Linked DNA regions of Homo sapiens: region 2 is linked to region 1. The links come from fine-mapping of genetic effects on gene expression. A gene starts in region 1. The other region holds a variant in brackets. All regions are shown on one strand. Distances are from middle to middle.

Evidence for each region. PIP is the estimated chance that this variant, and not a neighbour inherited with it, causes the effect. A credible set is the group of variants that fine-mapping cannot tell apart.
Region 2: its variant is the best candidate, but not a certain one, in a credible set for the expression of MME in whole blood (INTERVAL, PIP 0.64).

The regions. Positions count from the first base shown.
Region 1 is chr3:155,078,228-155,082,625 of GRCh38, forward strand. It overlaps MME (membrane metalloendopeptidase), which reads left to right and starts at 2,092. Exons shown (of 23, transcript NM_007289.4): 1 at 2,092-2,239.
Region 2 is chr3:155,005,910-155,010,279 of GRCh38, forward strand. No RefSeq gene overlaps it. Among named protein-coding and RNA genes, the nearest start is that of MME, 72 kb to the right of the region's middle. The variant A/G (reference allele first, on the strand shown) is at 2,693.

The sequences.
Region 1 (4,398 bases):
AAAATTCCAGTTGAGATGCTTTCCAGGGCGCTAGTCAAGCCCCGCATGCTTATTTGTGGGAGTGAAAACACCAATATTTCGGGATTGTTGTGAGGACTAAATAGTGTCTGTAAGATGCACAGAGAAAGCGTAAATAGACGTCAATAGCACTTGTTAGGTCTACACACTCCATTTTTCCTCTATATTAATCGAATTATTTAAAGATTGGTTAGCTTTTTGGGGAAATGTCTCTCCATTGTATTCCACTTATTAGGATGAACTACCTTTTCTCCTTGCTTTTCAGCTTTCTCTGCTATGAAAAAGATGGAAAATTTTTTAGCACAAGGGGACTCTTCTCAAGCAGCAAATCATTTTGATATTAAAAACAGATAATTGCAAACCCAGTTTTATTTCAGTATGAATTCCGCAGTGGAGTGTGAATATGTGTGTGTATGTGTGTGTGTGTGTGTGTGTGTGTGTGTGTGTAATTACCTGTGATTCAAAAGAGGAAAGGGATCAGTATTAAAGGTACTTGTACACTGGAAGCAAAAAAAAAAGGAAGTTTAGTTCCTCTGAGCTCCTTGGCAATTATAGCTGCTAAAGGTAGCTTTTACAAAGAAACTGCCTTTGTGCCTAAAGTATTTATTTCCTTGTTTGTATTTACCCCTTTGAGGAGGAATCGCTGTGTCTTGAGTGAAAGGGGTACGCTGCTTGCTTGCATTAAACTGTGAGGGTCCAGGCGCATTACGGCTGATTTCAGTAGGTAGAGCAGACACACTTTAGTTTATTTTTCTCTTTCTCACTCCCCACCCTCAACCTCCGATGTACACACGTTTTAAGATTCCCTGAAGTCAGGAGGTGGGAGCGGAGAGTTTCAGTTCAGATCTTGACATGAGAGTACTTCGACCAAGGAAAAGAAAGGGAAGAAAGAGGGAAGCGGGGTGGAGAAAGCAGGAGCAAGGAAGGAAAGAAGGAAACGGGGAGGGAGAGTAAGAAAAAAGAAAACGAAGGAGGGAGGGAGAGAGGACATTTAAATGAAGAAGGAAGGAAGCTTGGATTCAGGGAGGAAAGGGAGCGGGAAAGAGAGCGAAAGAAGAGCGTGAGAAGAGGCAAGCATTATAGTCTCCGGTCCACAGGGGAGAGATGGAGCCCCCTCAGGACTAGAGAATCCCGAAGAGCCCGTGTATTGTTTTCTTGAAAGCCCCGAAGCTAAGCAATTCTAAAAATGTTTAGCAAAGCCCTTTTGGGAATGGTGAGATGGGGGGTGGGGAGGATGGGACATTTTCATTGCCACCGCCCGCCCCCCGTCTCCCCGGCCCCCTCACATGAAGTGACTGGATTTGGGAGACCTAGCGGAAACCTTCAGGTCACCCAGGGAACTGCTCCTCTCTCTGGTCCTGCAGCGGCGAGGCGGGGTAGGGGGTGGGGGGGGTGGGCCGTGAGAGCGCCGAGACGCGCGGGGCGCGGAGATGTGCAAGTGGCGAAGCTTGACCGAGAGCAGGCTGGAGCAGCCGCCCAACTCCTGGCGCGGGATCTGCTGAGGGGTCACGGTGAGTCTCTGTGGGTGCGGGTCGGAGGGATGCCCAGGTGCCTCGTCGCCCCACGGCCCGGGCGGAGGCGGGTCCGGAACCTCCCCCAAGTCCGGCCTCAGCCTGGAGCCCGCGCGCCTTGGGCGGATGCACGGACTGAGAGGCGCTTGGCTGGGCTCTCAGCCCGCCACTGCCACCCGGCCCCGTGCGCTCATTGGTCGGGATGTGTCGGCTCAGCAGCCTCCAACTTCTCCCGAATCCCACTGGTGAGTCCCAGGAGAGCGAGCTGAGGGAGAAAGGTCCAAAGGGCGCGAGCGCCCAGGGCGCTGGGAGCCCGTGGGACGGGCACGGGGAGGGCAGAGCCAGCCGAGGGGAGCGGCTGCCGGGAGGTGCGCTGAGCAGGGTCCGCAGCTAAGGTCCAGCGCGATCCGAGCGCCCAGGACCCTGCGGCCGTGGAGGAGGCGTGCCCTGGGAAGGAGCCGCTACTGGGACCTGAAGAGTGAGGGGAGGGAGAGGGGCCCAGAGGGTGACCTGGAGGAGGGCTCTGGAAGTCACGTCAGGTTGGCTCTTCAGGTTCATTTCCATAGTTCCCTGCGGCCTCTGCCTTGGGGAGTTATGTTTTGTTACCGAGATCCGCGCTACCAGATTGCACCGGGGCTGATTTGGGGGCTGGGAATTTGCCATTCTGCTGTACAGACACTGATTTTTTTTTCTTCTTTTTAAAAAGCAAGGTTTGTTTTCATTTTGGTTTCTGTCGGATTTTCTCATTTGTAACTCACTTTTCTATTTTTACTTTTCTTAACCGGAAGATCTTTTCATTATCCCACCTCTTCATCTTGCTTTTAACCTGATTTCCTATTATATAATTAATGCTTAAATCTCACAAGGGTTGGTCGGTGCGGGGCTGGTGTGTCCTTTTGTAGATGAAAGTTTAAGACCTCTTAACTGGTTTCAGTCTATTTGTCTGGTTTCAAAATAAGGGTAATTGCAACCAAATATCCCTCTTTAGCTTCTCGATCAAGTCGATTCCTCCCCCATATATGATTCAAATGGCAATTTTATTAAACTGAAAACTAGTACCTGACTTGCAGCGTCAGCATTTGGAAAGTGCTTGTCGGCAAATCGACTGTATGAAGGCGTGTAGCTTCATCCCCTGCCATTTTTGTGGGTTCTAGCACTTTAAAAAATTGTCTGGTAATTTCTTGGACTTAACCCTGTGTCTTTGGTTGTAGAGCAGCACTAACCAGGGGAGTAATATGGTTGGCACTTCGTGTCCAGAACTCCGTATTTCAGGCTGGGAAACACCTAATTAATGTCTGGGAAACAAGAAGATGATTTATCCTGAGTACCTCTGTCCTCAGCTTCTGCAGACACAGTTTAAATATGGAAACTGTTTCTCCTTCTTCCTGTGCCTCAGTTTCCATAGAACAAACTGTAATTGCATAGCACAGCTTCAGGAACCTGCAGATATAAGTTAATGTTATAATGTGCAGTGAAGATGAAAACTGCTTAGCTAAGTCTAAGTCTGTAAGTCAATGAGATTTCCTTTTTAACAAATCAGTTATCCAGGTTTCCTGCTTTGACTGTCTGATATAGTAATGCTTATGCTCAACTGGTATAAGAATTGCTGCTTTACATTGCTTTGAAATTAAGCTTACACTTAAAATAGTAATTTATTCTGTTGGTAATATTGTCGAGCTGAAGTTTGCAGGTTCTTGTTATCTTAGACCTCCTAATTCTCTATTCTCGTCTGTGGCAGTGTCCACTTTTCCGTTTAAACTTTTTATTTAACACATCTTCAGTTGAAGTGAAATATTTTAAGAATACAGGTATGTTTTTGCGTACCCTGCTTTATATGGGACTATAAGCCTCAACTTGGTATTTTTTTTTTTTTTGTATTCTTTTGTTTACTTGTCCCCCTTACTCTTCTCTATGGGATTGGGTGTGGTTAAGTTGGATATTCAGGTATTTGGGGTTTAGTCATATGTTCCACAGTGAGATTCCAGATACTGTCCCCTGATGTCTTAAAGAAAAATTGTGAACCTTCCAGAATTAACTGGAAATGAACGACAAAGTTAATTAGGAGATTAAACTTGCATCATTTCTGCTTTTGCTCAATGCTTTTGAAAAAAGGCTACTAAGAGCAAAAGACTTCCTTTAAGAATTTACAGGGCATTTACAAGAGGGGGAGATGGAGGAAGACTTTGCAGGTGATTCAAAGATTATATTGTTTTGATGCAGCTTCTGTCACTGTCTTCATTTCTCTGTAACTGTTTCTGCAAACTTGGGTGCTGACCCATTAAGAGCCCAGCTGCTTCAGTACCCAGTCTCAAGGGTAAGGAGGAGAAGCCAAGGGAAAGTAACTTACAGGGAGAAAGAAATGCTTATCCACTAGCTTTACTACACCACAAGGCATGGAGTTTCCACAGAGCACCTGTAATTTAACCCTGAGGCTGCCCTGGTTCACCCCTTCGCTTTACTTTACAGGGACACTGACTGTCATTTCTAAGGAAGAACTAAGAAAAAAAAAAGTCCTTTTATACCAGTAAAACATTTCTCTACATTGTCTTCTGACATATGCGGGGGGAACAATATTCAGGAAAGGGAAATACTTTAGCAAATGTGCTTAACATTCAGGTGTTCTTTAGGACAGTCATGAAACATGGGGAGACTGGGAGAATTATTATTGTTTACCTCTCTGTAAAGTGTCCAGAGTATTATTAAATTTGTTCCCCTCTTTCCTTTGCCCAACCAATACACTATTAAAATAGGACTACAATCAATGCAATTCCATATCATAACCCCAGGGGTGGTGAGACTAAGCCAGCATGCCTTACATAACCATTAAGTAAGACATTTTAACATTCAGGTACATTACATTCCACTTTTA
Region 2 (4,370 bases), 72 kb before region 1:
GTGACCTTCAAAACTCCCTTTATTTACTAAATATATTTCCATATATGTGGTAGCTTTCTTTTTAATTTCTGCTGTCAACAGTCTGAAAACCACTGACATCAGTTAACCTCAATCATTAGATAAGTAATCTGCATTAAGCACTTCATAATACATTTTCATATTAAATGCAGGATTCATTTTCTTCCTCCATCAGTATTAATAGGCCACCCACTCCAATTAAATGCAATAATCAAGAAGTATTTCTAAGCAGTAGTGTATATCTCTCTTCAACAGAGATATAATGATATCTCTTCCTGTGTCATCTGAAAAGGCTTAGATGGAATAAGAAGCTATTCTGTCATGGTTAAAAATGGAAGTTAAGTCTGAGAGGAGTGCAAGAGTGAAGATACTAGTGAGACAAAATAACAAGTGCAGGGACCATTTCAAAGTAAAGCAATCATTAGAAGTGCAGAATAAAAGAAGGCACACTTGTCTTTTTTAAAAAGGGAATGAAAAAGCTTGTGTTCTCAGAGATGAGTTCTTTAACCCCAGACAGCTATGAGCAATTTGTCAACCACTCTGAAGTGCAGTGTGGAGTCAACCCCAGGGTCTCAGCCACATGCTTTGGGTACTGGTTTCCATGAGGCTAAAAGCACAAGAGGATATTCTGTCTCAAGGACATCCTAGCTCTCATTGCAGTCCAAAGAATATCAAAACAACTTAAAAGTAATTCTTACAAATTAAATAAGCTATATTAATAGGCACGCTGGGTGGAAGGGAAAAAACAGATCAGCAAAAGCTACCAAATAAAAGTGTCTACAGAGCATGGTGCAAAAATCACTGCCTTTTGCCATGGCTCTGAATCCTGGCTTCACAATTTACCTTATCACCTTGGGCATTCTTTTCACCTCTATGAACCTCAGTTTTATATTCTATAAAATGAAAGTAACGTACAGTTTGTCCTCCATATTTGTGGGTTTGCCATCTGTGGATTCAACCAACCACAGATTGACAATATTTGGGAAAAAAAGAATTCCACAAAGTTCCAGAAAGCAAAACTTGAGTTTACCTCATACCAAGTACTACAATGAATCCATGGGAATGAAGTGATGTATAGGCATTGTATTAGGTATTATAAGTAATCTAGAGATGGTTTAAAGTACGAGAGAATATGTGTAGGTTATATGCAAATATTGTGTCATTTTGTATAAGAGACTTGAGCATCGGCAGATTCTGATATCCAACAGAGGTCCTGGAACAAATCCCCCATGAATACCAAGAGATTATTGTACCTAGGATTTAAAGAAATCATGCTACTTAAAGTTTCTAGACTATAATAGGTTCTCTTCTTTTTTTTTCGAGAGGAAGTCTTGCTCTGTCACCCAGGCTGGAGTGCAGTGGTGCAGTCTCAGCTCACTTCAACCTCGGGGTTTAAGTGACTCTCCTGCCTCAGCCTCCCGAGCAGCTGGGACTACAGGCACACCCCATCACACCCAGCTAATTTTTGTATTTTTAGTAGAGGTGGGTTTTCACCATGTTGGCCAGGCTGATTTCAAACTCCTGACCTCAAGTGATCCACCCGCCTCAGCCTTTCAAAGTGCTGGGATTACAGGCATGAGCCACAGTGCCTGGCCACTAGACTATAATAGGTTCTTAATGTATTTATTAGTATCTTGCTACAAAAGGAAACCATATCAATAAATACATTGATTAAGAACTTAGGGGATTGCTTTGCATTCACTCTGACAATCTTTGTGATTTGGTATAGGAGAAATATAATCATCTAGAAACTTTCTGGGCTTGTTCTTTGCTCCTCATGTTTCCTTCAATGCCAGTCAGACAAGGACCTGGAACTGGCAGAGCTAGTCAGGAAGGTCAATGTGATCCCTCAGTTCCAATCTTCCTCACTACGTATCTTGACCAGTCATAGACTTGTCTTCTGCTGTGGTTTCTACGCTGTAATTTTTCTAATCTGGAGTTCTGGTTTCAGCTTCCACTCTCACCCACAGTGAGAAGAGCTACTGACCCACTTTTCTGGCCAGTCCTTCTTGTGAATTATTCTTTTGTCCAGCATATTCACAGTTACACTTGACTGGCTCCCTAATTACTTAGTAACAGGATCTCTTATCAGATCATCTGTCATGGTATCCCAGTGCTTGTGTTCCAGTAATCCTTATTTTACATGCTAACGGCCCCAAACTACAAGAGCAGTGATGCTAGCAATTCAAATATAAGAGGAGCTAAAAAATGTTTCCTGTAAGTATTCATTAATAAATATATATATATATATATAAAATGTTCTGAGATTGCTAAGATTTATTGTAAGAGCAAATCTTCTATCCATTAAACTGTGAAGAACAAAAAATAAATTTGTGCTGTTGTACTTCAAACTGCAAAAGTTATAGCCACAGTGCATAATAAGTGCTTGGTTAAGATGCAAAAGTCATTACATTTGTCATTGGAAGACATTAACAGAAATGTGTTCTGATTTACAGCAACTGGGTTTGGTACCATCTGAGATTTCAGGCACCCACTGGTGTTCTTAGAATCCCTTCTGGTTATGGGGGAACTACTATATGAGCAAAAGTCCGAAGTATCCACTGGACTCCAAGCTCCTGGTGGAAACCCATATTGGTCCATTTTCATACTGTGTAAAGAACTGTGAAAGACTGGGTAATTTATAAAGGAAAGAGATTTAGCTGACTTACAGTTC[A/G]GCATGGCTGGAGAAACTTATAATCATGGCAGAAGGCAAAGGGGAAGCAAGGCACATTGTTCACAGGGTGGCAGGAAGGAGAAGTGCCTAGCAAAGGAGAAAGAGCCTCTTATAAAACCATCAGATCTCATGGGAAATCACTCACTATCAAGAGAACAGCATGGGGGAAACCGCCCCCATGATTCAATTACCTTCACTGGGTCCCTCCCTTGACACATGGAGATTACGGGGATTATAATTCAAGATAAGATTTTGAGGGGACGCAAAGCCTAACCATATCAGAATCCCAGAGCAGTGTCTGGCTTCAACCACAGGTAAGCTAGCTACACCCTTAGAATGCTGGGCTTCACTTCAGCCTTACTTCTGGTGCCAGTTCTGTTGCCCCCGGTTCCACCTAACTCCAATACCTACCCTGTTCATCCAATCCTATCGAGGATAGCCAGCCTTAGAAAATGAAGCTCCAGAACACATACTATATTTACTTCAGTTTTTGTTATAAAAGAAGGGGGGCGGTGTTTAAGAATAGCAATGAAAAAAAAATGCCTTCCTTTATAACTCTGGGTTACATGGCTAAAAATTTGCTAGCAGTGAGGAATTAGTCTGTAAGAAAGTTACAAAGATAGACATCTAACGGAATCTAGTGACATAGCACAAAAGCATAATTGTTGCTAATTTATGAGTTTGAGGCCCTTTCTCTTTTCAGCCAGGAAAAACAGTCTCACCAATTTCTGACCCCCTCGCATCCCAATGTGATTGTTCTGTATCTTCTTTGAAAATGTCAGTAAAATGCTGTAAACTCTTTGTTATATGGAATTGTGTGGAAACTGGATGTGCTGATTCATCTAAAAATTTATAAGCATTTTCTAAATGTAAATGTGACAAAATGAGGACAAAACCACCTTGGAGTACCTTATACTTTCTCTGATTCTAACAGCCCTGCAAAAGCTCTTAAAGCTCCACAGTTGGTATTGAATGTCTCCATTATTATTGTGCTATTGGGAGGCACACATATCAGTTTATCAAGAGTTCTTAGGGCCGGGCATGGTGGCTCCTACCTGTAATCCCAGCACTTTGGGAGGCTGAGGCGGGCGGACCACCTGAGGTCAGGAGTTCTAGACCAGCCTGGCCAACGTGGCAAAACCCCGTCTCTACTAAAAATACAAAAGAAATTAGTCAGGTGTGGTGGCAGGCGCCTGTAATCCAGCTACTAGGCTGAGGCAGGAGAATCGCTTGAACCCAGGAGGCGGAGGTTACAGTGAGCGGAGATCACGCCATTGCACTCCAGCCTGGGCAAAAAGAGCGCAACTCCATCTCAAAAGAAAAAAAAAAAGAGTTCTCATTGCTGGAATGTCAAGAAACAACAGCTATATTGTAGTTTTGACTGTGTTTTTTTTAATGTCACCATCTTTACAAGACATATGGTAACATTCCTCAAGTTATCCAAACAAAGTCTGATACTGATTAAATACTAAAGTTCCTTATAATTAATGTTCATGAAGGGTGTGGATAAATGATATACATAGTGTGTTCTATGAAAACAAAATCAACAATTTAAGAGGTCTTACTTTTTTTTTTTATTTTGTGTTTTGTTTTGCTTTATTGTCTCCATAGGTTAAATTCTTCCCCTCTATGATTTTTATCATAGTTATGCATGAATAACTATGGGTGGAAACTGGCT